Homo sapiens: one gene and its partner. Changing the gene in region 2 together with the main gene of any one other region gives a genetic interaction. Each region holds a gene or a part of one and is shown on either strand. Other genes may lie near its edges.

Region 1 (7,786 bases), on a different chromosome or scaffold from region 2:
GTGCATATGCACAAGTTAGCAAACATCCCAAGTAGCAGAAACATGTGACCAAAAGATCACCCACAGGCTCAGGCTACATTTATGCAGATTTAATCACAGTTCATAAAATCGAGCTCATGAGGGACAAATCTGGAGTTCCCTGCTACGTACAGATAGATATACCAGTTTAATCAGACAAGTCTTTGGGGCCATACCTGATTCTGTGACATGTACACAAGCCAGATACAAAGTATGAGGAAGAAGTAGAAAGACTGGTCGTGGCTTGAAAGACACTTGTTCCCAGGATCCCCAGATGGACCATTGGGACAATTCTGCAAGTGTTTCATGCCTCCAATTTTAGTGTGTTCCTTGATCAGCCTTCTCAATTACCATTTTCTCACATGCTCCGTGATCCTTGTTTCCTGGTGGTTGACGCTGGGAATGAAGAGAGGAATAAAAGTGAAAAGGGAGTAAGTAGACTTGTTTCTTGAAACTTAGGATTTTCAAACTTCCTGGATCGTAAGAAAAAGAAAACGTCCAAGGGGGATGAATGAGCAAGTCTGCTGCATTCCTTTGCACACCCCTTTCATCAAGGAAACTTTGAATACCTTTACTTTTTCTATTGGCTGCCCAAGAGTTTGTATCTCCTAAAACAAAGTTTGTAAACCAGTATCCTCGATTGACCTGAACCTGGGAGGCAGACTGATAGATAATCTCAAAACAGAGTGATCTACAGCCTGGAAATTCTGGTGAAGAAGAAAAATCAGTGTATGAGAGAGCTAGAGGAAGAAAGTTTACAGTCAAATAACATGTTTGAACGTGCAGTTGTGAAAACAGAGCATGCCCCAATGTGGCTATAGGACTGATGGGTTAAAGGGAATAGAGGTGTGGTAGCCAACTGCCAAGATGACCACCAATGCATTGTCTTGCCAACTGGTTTTTACGCCTCTATGCAGTCTCCTCCCACAGTGGATACTGCCAATTTGTATAACTAAAGGATACTGCGGGAAAGACGAAATATGACCTCCAAGGCTGGATCATAAAAGATATAATGGGGCCGGGCGCGGTGGCTCACACCTGTAATCCCAAAACTATGGGAGGCTGAGGTGGGTGGATCACCTGAGGTCAGGAGTTTGTGACCAGCCTGGCCAACATGGTGAAACCCCATCTCTACTAAAAATACAAAAAAATATCTGGGCGTGGTGGTGGGCACCTGTAATCCCAGCTACTTGGGAGGCTGAGGCAGGAGAATCACTTGAACCCAGGAGGTGGAGGTTGCAGTGAGCTGAGGTCATGCCACTGCACTCCAGCAACAAGAGCAAAACTCCACTTTAAAAAAAAAGACATTGTGGCACAATCCAGCTGCCATGAAGCTAGGAAACTCAGGCAGTGACACAGAGAAGTCAACAGGGTTCCAGCCAATAACAGGACTAACTTTCCAGGCACGTGAGTGAGCTGCCTTGGAAGCAGATTTTCCAGCCCCAGCCATGCTTCCACCTGAAAGAAGCTGGGGCAACATCTTCAGTACTATCTCATGATACCCTGATCTGGAATTACCCAGCTAAGACTAATGGATTCCTGACACATAGAAACTGTGTGAAATAACAAATATATATTGTTTTAAGACATTAATTTTTGCAGTAATTTGTTATGAAGCAGTAGATAAGTTATATCTGATTTTGGAGGTGGAGGAGGTCTGTTTGTGTGATCTGTAAGAGGAACAGAGATGAAGATTCATAGAGAAAAGCAGGTCCAAAACCAATATGCCAACATATAGAATAGACAAATGGGTGCTGAGTCACCCAGAATAATGGCAGGGTGTGGAGTGAAGAAGAGAACCAAGAGCCCAACTAGATCCAAAGTCTTAATTTTAAAAAGTGGGATGGAGGATGGTTGATGCAAATATAAGTGCTTCAAAAGAGCAGGAATTTCTATAAGAAGAAGTAATCATTTGAAAGCTGAACTGGAGCCCCATGAAGGAGCCACAGACTCCCTTTCCCAACCTTCGTGCACACAGAAATGGGCTCTGGTGGAAAATATGAAAGTGCATGAGAAATGATATTACTGTCCACACACTAATCTCATCCTTAATATCAACTGGACCTTGCTATACTAACTTAAGAGTGTTGATCAAACTTTCTAAATTTTTTTGATGCCAATTTTCTAAGGAAAAGAACTTCTTATAAGATTTTTAAAACAAGCTTGGTTTGCTGCACTATTTGCAATACACACACAAAAAGGTCACATTTCTGTGTCCTTTTGAGTAAAGTCATATCCATCTTTGAAGCCTCTCTCAGGACCACAAGCTGTTTTTTTTTCTTTTTTCTTCTTATGGCTTCATCACTTCACTGGTGTTATACCAGGATTTAGGAACCAAGCAATCCAAAGAAATGTGGGAGAGGCCTCGTCTGGCCAGTAGTCCAACATGATTGCCTCTGGAATTCACCATGAGACTCACAGTTCACCAGAAGGCAGAGGCAAAAATCAGAGTTGCCAATTAAAATTATTTCTAAAGATGGGTTCACTGCTTCCTATTCCCAAGCCTTTCTGAGACTCCATGGGGTGAATCACTTGCTTCTTTTCTGTATCTCCTCCTGCAGGCATTTAAGCTTTGTAATTTAGTTACATGCATACTTATATTTATCTCTTTCCAACAATTTTGTTCATTTCTGATATCTTCTATTGTCTTCCCTCCCAATTTCTGCCCTTTTCAGTTTTTACTATTATCTTGTGGTTTTAGGAAAAAGCAGATATAAATATGTGTTTAAGCAATGCTATGGTTTGAAGGTTTTTGTCCCCTTCAAAATTTTTGTTGATTCCTAATCCCCTATGCAACAGTATCAGGAGGTGTAACGTTTAGAAGGTGATTCAGGAGGACTCCTCATGAATGGGATTTGATGCCCTTAGGGCTTGATGGAGGAAGTTTGACCCCCTCTTGCCCTTCCACCTTCTGCCATGTGAGGACACAGTGCTCAAGGCATCACTGTGGAAGCAGAGACAGGAACTTCACCAGACAACAAACCTGCTGGCACCTTGATCTTAGACTTCCCAGCCTCCAGAACTATGAGAAATCAATTTCTGTTCTTTGTAAATTACCCAGTCTGTGGCATTTTGTTATAATGACACAAACTAAGACAATCAATCAGAGTTATATTTCCTTGTAAGTATAAATTTTATTTTTTTATTTTTATTTTTATTTTTTTTAAGAAGGAGTCTCGCTCTGTCACCCAGGCTGGAGTGCAGTGATGGGATCTCGGCTCACTGCAAGCTCCGCCTCCCGGGTTCACACCATTCTCCTGCCTCAGCCTCCCAAGTGGCTGGGACTACAGGCACCCGCCACCACGCCCAGCTAATTTTTTGTATTTTTAGTAGAGAGGGGGTTTCACTGTGTTAGCCAGGATGGTCTCAATCTCCTGACCTCATGATCCACCCACCTCGGCCTCCCAAAGTACTGCAATTACAGGCATAAGCCACCACGCCCAGCCGTAAGTATAAATTTTAAAATCACTTCTTAATTAATATAATAGATGAAATGACCCACAGAAGTATCCACTCACAGAAAGGACCATTTCTAAAGGACCAGTTTGGCCTATAAAGAAAATACAATAGCAGACCTTCACAAATTTTCTAACATCAGAAAAGAAAAAATATTTAGATATTAAACTGAATCAAATGTGATGGTCTTACCCAGACAAAGGAAGACTCAGCACCCCATTTCCAAGTTAACTGGGAGCTTTTGTGTTGCTCTTTTTGCCCCCCTTATATTTGATTCTGCTACCTGACCTTTAAACAGAAAAGCTTTCTCTTCTTGCTATCTATGTTTGTTATTTAAAAGATCAAAATATTAAACTCTTGCTATATCTATTTGTCATTTGAAAGATCAAAATATTAAATGATTGTGAAACATTTTTTGCAACTGTAAGAGGGTTGATACTTTTCCTGAATATTATTCATTCAACATTCATTTATTTCTTTGACAAATATTTAAGAGATGCTCATGATGTCCTAGGCATTGAGCTAAGAACTCAATGTTGCAATGTGGATAAGATCCAGTCCCTGTGTGTTCATACTTATTTAATACTATTATAGACAAGGCCTTTAATACATACCATAGTCATATATCAATTTTTAATTAGCAATATGAAATAAGAGAACAATGGGACTTTCCACTCAATTTGACAGGTGGCTAAATTTTCAGTTACTGAATTTACTATTTTAGGGTAATCTAGCACATGACCAAAATTTAAATGCACAGAACAGAAGATCAGAGTAAGAAGAGCTTCCATTTGGATTATCACTTTTTCTACTTGGAGTCACATACTGTACTTTAAATTGATTAAGAACATGTTAAAGGTCCAGGTGGTGATTTCCAGCTACAAGTCCAAAGTATAGAAGAATGTGTTTAAATCCTACGTTTATCAGATCCATAAATATAGTTCCTTCTATGTTAAGTGGCTTTATTTCTAAGAACCCAGCCCTCGGTCCTGGGGGTGCTTCCCAGCCCGCTGCTGGAATTCCTGATCGTGGCAGTCTGCTGAAACATGAGCTCAGTTACCAAATATAGCTGAGTGGAGTAAGAGGACAGATGAGAGTCTGAGGCCACAGTTGCCTCAAAGTGACCACGGACCAGGCAGTCTCTAATGAATAGGCAAGGCCACAACCTCCATTCTCCCAGAAAAGAAGAAATGCTCATCTGAAATTCATCACCTCTCTGGAGTCTTCAAACTGACCAAGCATTGAAAAGGTCTGTAAGGTGTATCTTAATATACTAACTAGTAGGGCAACATTTTAAGGACTTAAAAAAAAAAAAACTAAAAATACAAAAGTTTTTCTGAAGATATGATACTATTTACAAGATACCTTAATTATTCTTTTGCTTGGAGAGGAAACGTAATGAGAATGTTACGGTTTTGCCAAAAACAGATAATACGTAAGATTTGCCTGCCCACTTCATCTCTGCCTTTGCTGTCAGAGAATTACACTTTCTGTTATAAGCTTAAGCATGCTAAGATGGTGCTATCAATTCCAAAAGGATTAAATGTATTTATGGAGCCAGCTTTTGTCAAGATCGTGTATGTGTTATGTTTCACAGAAAAGGAAAACGCAGCTTTCTAGACCCTCACCCATATTTAAGCTAGATAAGTGATGATGGCTTAAAGTGATAGACCTTAGATTTCAGTAACATTATAAATTGTTAATTACACTTTCAAAAGATTCTAAAAGTAACTCACTGGACATAATTAAATGAGTTGGGATAGTAACAGCAGGTATTTTAAATTATATTCATGCATAAAATTTACATACATATTTTTAATAAGATAACGCTTACTAAGGGAAACCACAGTGCAATCTCGAGTCCAGTCAAGTTTAAACATCACAGAATAATTTTTATCATGTTGTTTTAAGTTGCACATGAAATTGTCTTGAATCCAATATAGGAGGTTGACATAAAATGATTTCAGGCTCATATTACTTATTAACATTTGCTAAAAATACTAATTGCCTTCTAGTATGAATAATGTGGTGACATATAAAGCCATTTCTTGGCAATATAAAACTATTACAAATCTATTCAATCACATATATGCAGAAATTAAATCCTCATTTCATGATAAATGTGCCTTCCAATGTTTTTTCTCACAGAAAGAACTTGAATACTCACCTCAATTATTCAGATTTTTTTTTCAGATTTTTAAAATCAAAGTCTCTTTGACAAGTTATTGCTAACAGCAGAAAAGGCCGATGAGGTTTATCTGGCCACTAACTGCCCTGTAAATACATGATTACACATTCCTAGAATATAAATTAGTCCTCTGGCATCCTAGAATCTGGTATGGATTAGGGTCTGTATCCCAGGGGTTCTGTGTCAGCTCTTCCTCTGGGTTTCTCTGTTATTGCTAGAGCTGAATATTAAAACTGGCCTTATAGCATATTTCACAATAGAATGAGGATCTGGATTGCACTGGACAAGTACAATCACTTTGACCTCCTTACCTCATTTTTTAAAAATGTAGAGGGCAATCATTATTCAGGTTTAAAAATAAATATGACAAGTTCTTTAAGAGATACCAAGTGGAATCTGCAAGGCCCAGACAAGAGCTCCACTTCTTAAACAATATGTGTGTGGAGGCTGTCAAAGGGTATTGCAATTACTGAGCTCCAGTTAGAAATTCAGGCCATCTAGAGTTAATGACTGTGTCCCGGTGAAATTACAGCAAAGAAAACAAAGATTGAACAAAGTATCTTCGACTAAAATTTCTAACTGTTAAATCATATTAGAGAATATAGAAGCAAATTTGGTAAATAGGTTTTGAATTTAAGTGAGAAGAATAAAGCCCTGAATTGGATAATGGTAATGGAAATGGATAATTCAGAAGTAAAATCTAAATATTTGCAATGGACTCAGTATGGTGAATAAAGTTGATAAGATGAACAGGACATGGGATAACTTCAAAAACTCTGTAAAGTATCTTATTTGGCTGTTTCTGCATTAAATGAGCTATTAGATTATGTCCTTGAAATTGAGATTAAATAAGCTGTTTAAAGAGATATTTAAAACTGTAGGATAAATATATCTGCCTGCATTGACAATTTAATAATTAGAAAGGAAAATAATCCATGTGTATTTATTAAGAAATAAATTATAAAATTGTAGTGCATTTTCTGCATCAAACATAAAATTTCATAAAATTTTCGTGTTTGACTTTTGCCCTAAAGGACCCTTTGTAGCAAAAAAAAAAAAAAAAAAAAAAAAAAGGAAGGAAGAAAGAAAGGGAGACGGGGAAGAAGGAAGGGAGAAGGGAGGGAGGAAGGGAGGGAGGATGGGAGGGAGGATGGGAGGGAGGATGGGAGGGAGGAAGGGAGGGAGACATGGAAGAAGGGGGAAGGGAGGCAGAAGGGAGGGAGGGGGGAGGGAGGAAGGGAGGGACTTTATTGATTTAGTCTAGGGGGGTTGCCTGTGATTCTGAAGCATGAAAATTAAGTGTTAAAGCTTTTCTAACTTTGGTTTTCATAGTTTAGGTTTTATTAAAAGATATTTCAATATCTAATATTTGTATCAATGGTTTGCATTACTTTTTTAGTAATTGCTTAAATATGAAAATAAAACTGCTAAACCTAAAATTAAAAATCACTTATAACTTTTTTTCAAAAATTACAAAATAAGCAACAAAAGATCCCCCTGCATGTCCCACCTTTCAACTCCTACCCCTGCCTAAATCCCCCCACAGAGGTCAGTGTTGATTGTTTGGTGTATGTTATTCCAACCATTTTCATATATTTATTCCTATCTATGTATACATTTTTAAATGACTATGGGAATTTAGCTATTCCACCTGGACTCTCTAAAGAATCTGCTGAATGTGGTACATGGTATTAAGTGATCCTTACTGCCTGTCAATGTTTTTCTAACATCAAACTTTTTCTTTCAAAATTGTAGCAGTTCTTCATCGACTCAAAGTATTTCACAAACAGACTTCAAAAGTTTTCCCCTTATCTAAATTTTTAAAGTAATTTCCTATAATATCTCCAATGAGAGAAGAAAACTTTGCAGTTAAATGCAGGCTTCCACCCTGAGTCTGCCACTTTCTGATGGCTCAGGTTGGGCCAAATAATTGAAACTTTTTCTGCTGCAGTTGTGGGTAATACAAACAATAAAATAGAAAAATAACATCTACTACATGGATTGTTCTGAGGATCAAACTGTTCACTTTTGAAAGCAGGTAACTTCCAAGCTGTTATGTAGGAACAACTTGCATTGTCACTGAATTCTTTCTACTTACTAGACTCTGCTCTTTCTCATGTATAT
Region 2 (8,018 bases):
CCAGGAGGGCAAGCTCCAGGGGAAGAGGCAGGCCCGCTTGGGTTCCTAGAAGCCGTCGAAAGCTTTTGACGCGGGCGATTCCCATAGTTTTCCCTGCGTGTTCCAGGGTTGAGGGAAAACGCGGCGCAACTTTCCAGGGCTCTTTAAAAGGCAGGGTCTCTCTGCCTGGGTGACCGAACTTGAAAGCCATGGACCTTGGGGATGGATGCCGGGCCCTCAGAGCCCGGGATGGCCCAGGCGAGAGCCGAAGTCCCGCGCCCGGCACCCTGCACCCTCCACCCAGGCGCCCAGGCCTACGCTGTCCGGAGCGGGCCTCTAGGAAGGAAGGTTGACCAGGGTCGAAAGCACGCACAACAAAAACTTGGTGTCGACAAAGAGAAATCAAGAAACGTCATTAGAGTGCAGGCCATAAAAGAAGGCCTGACAGAGAGAAAAGGAGAGAAGATGGAAATAAGAAAAACCATACACCTTTAACACTAGCATATAAAGATCTATTGATTTTTAAAATAACAAATCCGTGTTTGTGAAAAACAGGCGGCCTTTTACTAAATTACATAAGGAAAACTTGGGAGGTGGGTGAAGAAAAGGGGAAAAGTCTGAGCAGATTCCCGACAAAAACGTCAGTTAGAAGGAAACTGAGGGATAAAAATGTCCCCCAGATGTGAACTCCATGTTTTGAGCATGGAAGCAAACTATCTCCTAATGCACAAAATGGGTTTTAGATAAAAGTATTTTTAAAAATCAAACGTAATTAAAACAACTCTTTTCTCGTGATTTTGTTTTAAAAAGTTTGGAAATAAACCTTTTGAGGGATACAAAACGAAACCAAACAAATATTCTTGAATCATCAGCAAATTTATTCATTTACTGTTTTAAACAATACAAAATTCTAGCGAAAGGTAAAACTATTAAAATATATCTTATTGTCGAAATTAAACCTGCTGGAAATAATCGCTTCAGTTGAAATAAGGTCAATACAAAAATTGTGCAGTAAAAAGCGTATGTAATTTGAAACAAAAAAGGCCTTTATTAGAGACAAAACTCGAGAGGACAAAAACCCACACCGGACATAGATCACAAAACTTCCTAGAACTCTCCTTTAAATCGGAAGAAATTTGTAAAATGTGATATGAAATACAACTCTACAAACATCCAAAATACATTTCTGGTCATAATTAATCGTATTTGACATTTTCCTCTAAGTTTAATGCAACTTTAAATAATTTAGGCTTTTTCCTAACATGATAGATTTTTTTCAGTATCAGAAATGGACAAGAGGAAACTCCAGTAAAGAGAAAAGCAATGAATTTAAAAGGGTGCAGAATCTGAAAACAAACTAACCACAATGTACATTTAATTGTACTTAATTGTATATTTCATTTAAATAGTCCTTCTCAGGGGTTTAATAATTTAGAATCAATAGTTCCCTTCAAAACATAATAAAATATTTACACTTTATAAAATATTAACCGATTAACAATACAGCCGTGTTGTTTATAAGAGTGTAACTGAAGTCCTGCAAATCATGCTGTTGACACAAGCCTGTGAGGTTAGCGAAGTGATCCTTAGCAAAATGTAAATGAAGATCTTCAGACAGTGGTGTTTATAAAATAGCTCATTAATGACTTAGGATTGAATCGCTCCAACCATTCGCATCATCAGATATAATAATAGTGACGAATCAGACAGGAAAGATCCTGGCTAAACCATTTGCATTTTTTTCCAGAAGTACTGAACTCCTAATATCACCAATTCTTCTAAGTTCCTGGACATTGATCCGGAGGAGGATTCGCAGTTCAACATCAAGGTAAGGAAGGATACAGCATTGTTATCGTTGTTGAGATATTAGTAAGAAATACGCCTTTCCCCATGTTGTAAACGGGCTAAGTTTGACAGTGGTAGTTGGCTTTTGCAACACCCCCTTCCCATTTCGACATATTACAGATTGAAGAAAAAGTTTGTTGCTCAAAACTTACAGTTTGTTTCTTTGCAGCCCCAAACCTTTTAGCTACCACCACGGGTTGATTTACTAGACCCATTTTTGCTCTCACCGACTTCGAACTGTGCATTTTCTCCCACTCTTTTGACTGGGGGTGGTATGCGGGGGGAGGATGGGGCTTGGTGAAGAAAACCAGGGAAAGGCAAACGCTGCCTAAAACTCCCAGGGTGGCTCCCCTAAGAATTGCTATCCTGCTTGTTTCTTTTCTCGGCTGGGATCCGACCGACTCCCAGGTCGCCTCGGACTTCTTTGGAACTTGGTGGGCGGCGCCTAGGTGCGGGGTTCGTGGTGATCTGGGCGCCGACACTTAGGCCGGGGGCAGGTTTCCTTCCTGGGACCCTTTCTCTTCCAGAGGCTCTCAAGCCTCTAAGCCCGTGCGCATGCCGCCTACCAGGTAGATGCGGCGAGGGCGAGTGGAAGGCAGCCTTGTCCCGGGCACGATCGGCGGACTCAGCTTTTCGCAGTCTCTGCTCCCAGCAGGGATTTACAGAACTGCTCCCGAGAGCGTTTCCCGAAACCGAACTTAGTTTGGCCCTCTGGCGCCGCCGTACAGTCAACGCTTCTTAAGGGGGATCGGTGGCTCTTGCTGCGGGAGATGTGGGAGAGCCCTCGGGGTCCTGGGGATTAGGAGGGAGAGTCAACGTGTGCGGGAGGGACATGAGGTGCAACCAGTTGAGGGGGGATTCTCTGGCCTCAGGGCCGGCGGGGATGCGTCCACATTTTCTCGCCTAAGGTCCTAGCGGCTAATGTCCGCCGACGCCCCGGGTATCTCGCGGGGGCTGCGGCCCCTGCCCACGTGCTTTTCCTTAAGGAGGCAGCGCGCCCAAGCGGAATCGCAGGGACAAAAGCGCGGCCAGAGGCCAGCCTGCTCGGCTAGTGCCCGCGCCACCTTAAATGAGCACCGCGGCCGGAGTCGGGCTGCCGGCGGCCGCGGCCGCGGGAGTCGGCAAAAGTTTGTGGCTCTGTTACGCCTTCGCGGGACCTGCTGGGGACGCTCCTGTGCGGCCTCCCCCCGGGCGGGGAGGCCGGGTCCTCAGGGCACAGCTCTGTTGGCGCCAGCAGCCCTGGGCTCGAGCAGCTTGGGGTCCCCAGGAGCCCCAGTCCTGTAGCCCGAGGACAGGCAGCCCCACCGCCCTCGCCGCCACCGCGTCACGGGCTCCAGGCGGCCCGGTTTGCACCGCTCGCGATGTCGCCGGAGCGGCGAGCGCTCCAGCGATGCCATCCAGGGATGCACCCCGCTCTGCATCCACCACGCAACCCCCATTCCTGTGCCACCCACAGCCCGGCGGGCAGTGGCCGTGCTCCTGGCATTCGGGACACCCCGACTATTGTTCCGGACTCGCGGCCGTGCCAGCTTTGAAGGAGAAGCGGCCTTCCCTGCGCGCGCGGCGGCACGAAGCGCGGCGGGCCGGGACGTTCGGCTCGGCGCGGAGGGGGAGCTCGCAGGCACCGGGAAAAGTTGCTCGGAGGGGCGGAGGCGGTGGGTGGTGGGCGGAGGCGGTGGGTGGGGGAGGCGATCGCCCTCCTATCTCCAAAGTCGAAAGTACTCCGCGCAGTTAACAGAGCTGGGAGCCGAGGCAGCCGCGGTCGCCTCTTGCGCGTCGGTCTGCGTCTCCGCCGGCAGACGCGGCACCCAGCGACTGCCTTGTCGCCGCCGCCTCCGCGCCGGGACGAGTGCGCCTAGGGGCTGGGCGAGGCGGCCGCGCCCTGGACCCGCCACAAGGAGGAGGACCAGACCCTGGGCCCCGGTGCCCGCCTGCGCCCAGACGCACCCACCCGCTGGCCGCGGCCACCGCCTCGCGCCGCACTCGGTTCTCTGCCATCGGTCCTTCGCCGCCTCGTGCATGAGGTCCTCGTCACCCCGCTCCGACCGCCGACTCTCCCCTTCCTCTTCCCTCCTCCCTGCCTCCCACCCGCCCCTCGCCTGTCCCTCTGCCTCCTTCGCAGCCCCGCCGCCGTTGGGTCGCCGTGCTCACAGCGATTGATTGATTGATGTTTAATTTCCTGCCAGGCGGGGCCCCCCTCCCCCCGCAACCTCCCCAGCCCTCCTCCCCGCCCCCCACTCCCCTCTTTTCTTGCGGTGGACCAGTCTGGCTTGGGTTTAGATCCATCCCCCCCACCCCCATCCCGAAATAATCCAGAGACTTCCCCTACCCCCACCCCAAATTATTATTTTGAAGGCGCTAGATCTGGGGACCGAAAGGGGGAGGGGGAGAAATCGGAAACCGAGGACAACCCAAAAGGACTCACTTTGCCTGATGACTCAACGCAACTAATAATCATCTCCCTCTCAGTGTGTCTCTCTCTGCGGCTTGTCAGTGAGTCCGGCTCTGGCTGCTGGCAGAGGCGGCCGAGAGGGGAGAGGCTGGAGGTGACAGCTTGGGCGGCCGCCGCGTTTCCTCCCGCGCGCGGTCCCGGGTCCCTGCGTCTTCTCGGCTCTTGGTGTTACCGGTCCCACCGCTCTGGCCGCGCCTCCTCGCGAGCTAGCCGCCCTGCGAACCAGCAGCCCCGGCTCGCCGCCGCCGCCGCCGCCTCCGGGTTCTCAGCCCTTTCTCTCCAGAACGGGTCTCCTTCCCGAAGGTGTGAAAAGGCTCTTTCAGCCTCCTTCTCTTCCCCCCTCCTCCGCCGTCCCCTCCCCCGCTCGCTCGGGTGTCCCTTTGGAGGAGTCCTTTCCCTCTCCTCCTCCTCCCCCTCCTCCCTCCCCCCATCATCATCATAACAACCATCTCCGCACCAGAAGAAGACACCCTGACCCAGGACCTTAAACATTAGGACCTGGGGAAGAGGGAAGGGGAAGGAGTAAAGAGGAAGACTAGGAGAACACTGCAAAGCCAAGCACCAGAAACTTTCCACCCTGGATTCTCTACTTTTGCTCCATGGACAGAGCCCCAGTCAGCCAAGTTTCAGACAGACCGTGAGCAGTAAGTACGCAGGGCGAGGGCTCCCGCGCCGCGCTCGGGAGTTCGGGGAAGCCCAGGGCCAACGAAGTCCCCTCCCCGCCGCTCTCGGCCTCTCGGACCGCGAAGTCGGGGAATGCAGGCGGAAGCCTCGCCCTCAGCCCTCCTGCTCCGTGTCTTCATCTCGCATCCTTCCTTTCACCTCCCCCTGCCACCCCCACCTTGTCTCCTTGACCCGTGGCGCCGACACTGCTCGCGCGGCCAGAGCGCCCACGAGGATTCCCAGCGCGCACGCAGTACGGTGCCGGGGTCTTGCTTCTTGCGGGTGTCAGTGACAACGCGAGCGCCGTTTCATCAGGTGTTTCCCCTCCTTCCCCGCCCCCCCCCACCCCCCCAATCCAGGGGTGTCGAGACCTGCGGCTTCCGTGGGGAGCGCACTGCCAACCTAGTGACCCAGAGGAAAACTTTCTGGAGCGATGTTAAAATTGGGGCGGATGAAGGCTGCTCTTGCACTAAGAATTCAAATGCTTTTTGCTTTTGTGTTTTATATTGAAGAGCTTTAAAAAAGCACTGGGGATCAGATGAAGATAAGAACGCTCCAAAATAATAACGATTGTAGCGCCCGCCTTTGTGATGGAGGTTATTCTGATAAATACCTCCAAGTGTTTTCGGATGCTTATTAATGTGGAATTAGGGTTGATTTTATGCAGGTGTGTGCTTATCTCAGGACTTGCTCCGTATAGGTAAAAAGCGGGTATTCAAGGGGTTCTTTCGCCCGGCCTTTGGCTCCTGCCTGGCCATTCACAGCGCATTTACCGGGTGGTTAATTCGGTTATGGACTTGCGCACACCCCCAACTCCCTTCCCATGTGGGTGGAACGTCTTTTTCTGAAGTTCACTTATTCCGCAACCCTGACCCCGGGACGGGCTAGGCTGTAGCACCCAGGAACGGTTTATGCCAACCCCGTCCCAATGAATGGACCACTTCTAGGCGCCCCTGGGTGCCAACCCCGGCCGCGACCCCGAGGGCTGACTTCTGGGGAGCTGCGACTGGGCAGAGTCGCCGAACCGAGGCGCTGGGCTTCCTGGGGGCCGCCCAGTGTAAGGTTGGGACCGGCTTCCCGGCTCGGGCCCCTCGGGCAGCGTGGGAGGAAGTTTGTGTGGCTGTGGTGCAGCGCTCTGCCACTGGCCTGAACGTCTATCACGTGTATGAGCGGTTTTCCCTCTTTTTTCTCCCTCCCCCTTCCTCCCCCCACCCCCTCCCTAGGTCCCTGTGCGTTTTATTGCGACCTGCCGGTGGGAACTTTGTCTCCGAGTCGGAGCAGCATGGAGCGGCGGAGCGAGAGCCCGTGTCTGCGGGACAGCCCCGACCGGCGGAGCGGCAGCCCGGACGTCAAGGGGCCTCCCCCAGTGAAGGTGGCCCGGCTGGAGCAGAACGGCAGCCCCATGGGAGCCCGCGGGAGGCCCAACGGCGCCGTGGCCAAGGCCGTGGGAGGTAACAGCCCGGAGCAGGGAGGCGCGCAGCCCGCGGCCCAGTGATAATGGCCCGGGTGTCAGGGTTCAGGTTGATTAGGCGCTGTCGCGGTGTAGGATTACAGGAAGTGAATTCCAGGTTGCCAAATAATGCCCCCGTCGCCTCTCATCTGCAACTGGTAGCTTCATCTCCAGTTAAAACAAGAAAGTGGTTTTACCCAGAGGGTGGCATTTTTTGGGCATTTTGCCACTGTGTGCTGAGGTGTTGGCAGGTTTATGTCACAGCCAGCTAACTGTTTCTAGATTTTCCTAGAGAGCTTTTTAGTGATTTAACTCTTTTGCCTTGCCTCGGAGTGTCTGTTGTAGGGATGAAGTTCACGTGCGTTCGCTTTTAGGGAATAAAATAGTCATTAATGCTCAGGCGAGTACAGGAACAAGGAGAGTTGATGTTACTTTGTAGTGAGGACAGTGCTTCAAGACAGATGAATGACAACTGGGAATATTTCCTGCCACGTGAAATGTGGGAAATAAAGAATCACCATGAATCCATCAGGCCCTTAGAAGCTTAAATGCTGCTGTTGTCTATAAAGTTTAGTCATATGCATTCGTAACTTTATTATGAATTATAGGAGAACAGATAAAAATAGCAAAGTAGCCTTATCAACTAGATGTAGTTTCCCCTCCAAAGAATTTATTAATAATTTTATTTAAAGAAAATCTTTTGTAGTTTTTACTACTTAAGCAACTACTTTCTTTTAAAGTGGTCAGGAAAAGCAATCATACAAAATAAAGATATGGGAGAAATTTAAACATTGAAATATTTTGGAGTTTGTATGCCATTTGCTTAGTTGTCTTTTACATGTAAAATCCACAATTCCACATGGCATGCAGGTTTTCTGTGTGTTTGGCATAAATCACTAGTTTAATTTTTTTTGCCTCTAACGTTTTTTCTCTAATAATTTCAACAGTAGCCCATTTAATATTCAATATATTAACTTGTCTTAAATGATATAAAACCTTGGCAAACCTTAATGATAAGCTCCCACCCCCTTGTTGTAAGTGTCTATTGTGTGTATTTCAAAATAGTTACTTACATCTAAAAATGTTCATTCCTCCTTAAAGAGTTGAACACATACGTTTTATAAAATCGTATTTTTTTCTTTTTACTTATTTTGCTATTTCTATTTCTTCATGGTAAATACTTAGGATGGTTTGTCTCAGTCTTTCATATTAATCGTCTCACTTGAGAAGTATTCATCCTTTCAATGTTGTGAGTTAAAAAGTTTGGTGATGGATTCTGGCTTGTTTATCTCCCCTTTTTGGGACTTGAAAATATACTTTATTGAAGCAAAAGAAAACAGTTCTGTGACCCACTTTTTAAAAGAGAGGTTTATTAATTTGTTGTCCTGATACTGGAGCAAATAATGTCAGACTTTTGGCATAATCAGTTAGTATATGCATATAAGAAATAAAAATTCATAGAGTATGATGGTACCAATTATGAGATATGCTAAGTGCTGAAAATGTTTGAAAAAGTTCTGAAACTCCTTGGAGACAGTGTGTTCCAAAGTGGCCTTTGTGGACAGAAAAGGCTTGGACTTAAAATTTTGGTATCTTTCTGAAGATCTAATAAAATTCACTAAATTGAAA

The links.
Region 1: of SATB2 (region 2) and PALLD, changing one enhances a phenotype caused by changing the other (phenotypic enhancement), as found in Homo sapiens cells (one study listed by BioGRID).

The regions. Positions count from the first base shown.
Region 1 is NC_000004.12:168,492,472-168,500,257, forward strand, and holds the start of PALLD (palladin), read left to right. Parts: upstream 1-4,580; 5' UTR 4,581-4,723; intron 4,724-7,786. UniProt on the Homo sapiens protein: Cytoskeletal protein required for organization of normal actin cytoskeleton. Roles in establishing cell morphology, motility, cell adhesion and cell-extracellular matrix interactions in a variety of cell types.
Region 2 is NC_000002.12:199,454,241-199,462,258, reverse strand, and holds the start of SATB2 (DNA-binding protein SATB2), read left to right. Parts: upstream 1-4,319; 5' UTR 4,320-4,920; intron 4,921-6,162; 5' UTR 6,163-6,221; coding exon 6,222-6,390; intron 6,391-8,018. UniProt on the Homo sapiens protein: Binds to DNA, at nuclear matrix- or scaffold-associated regions. Thought to recognize the sugar-phosphate structure of double-stranded DNA.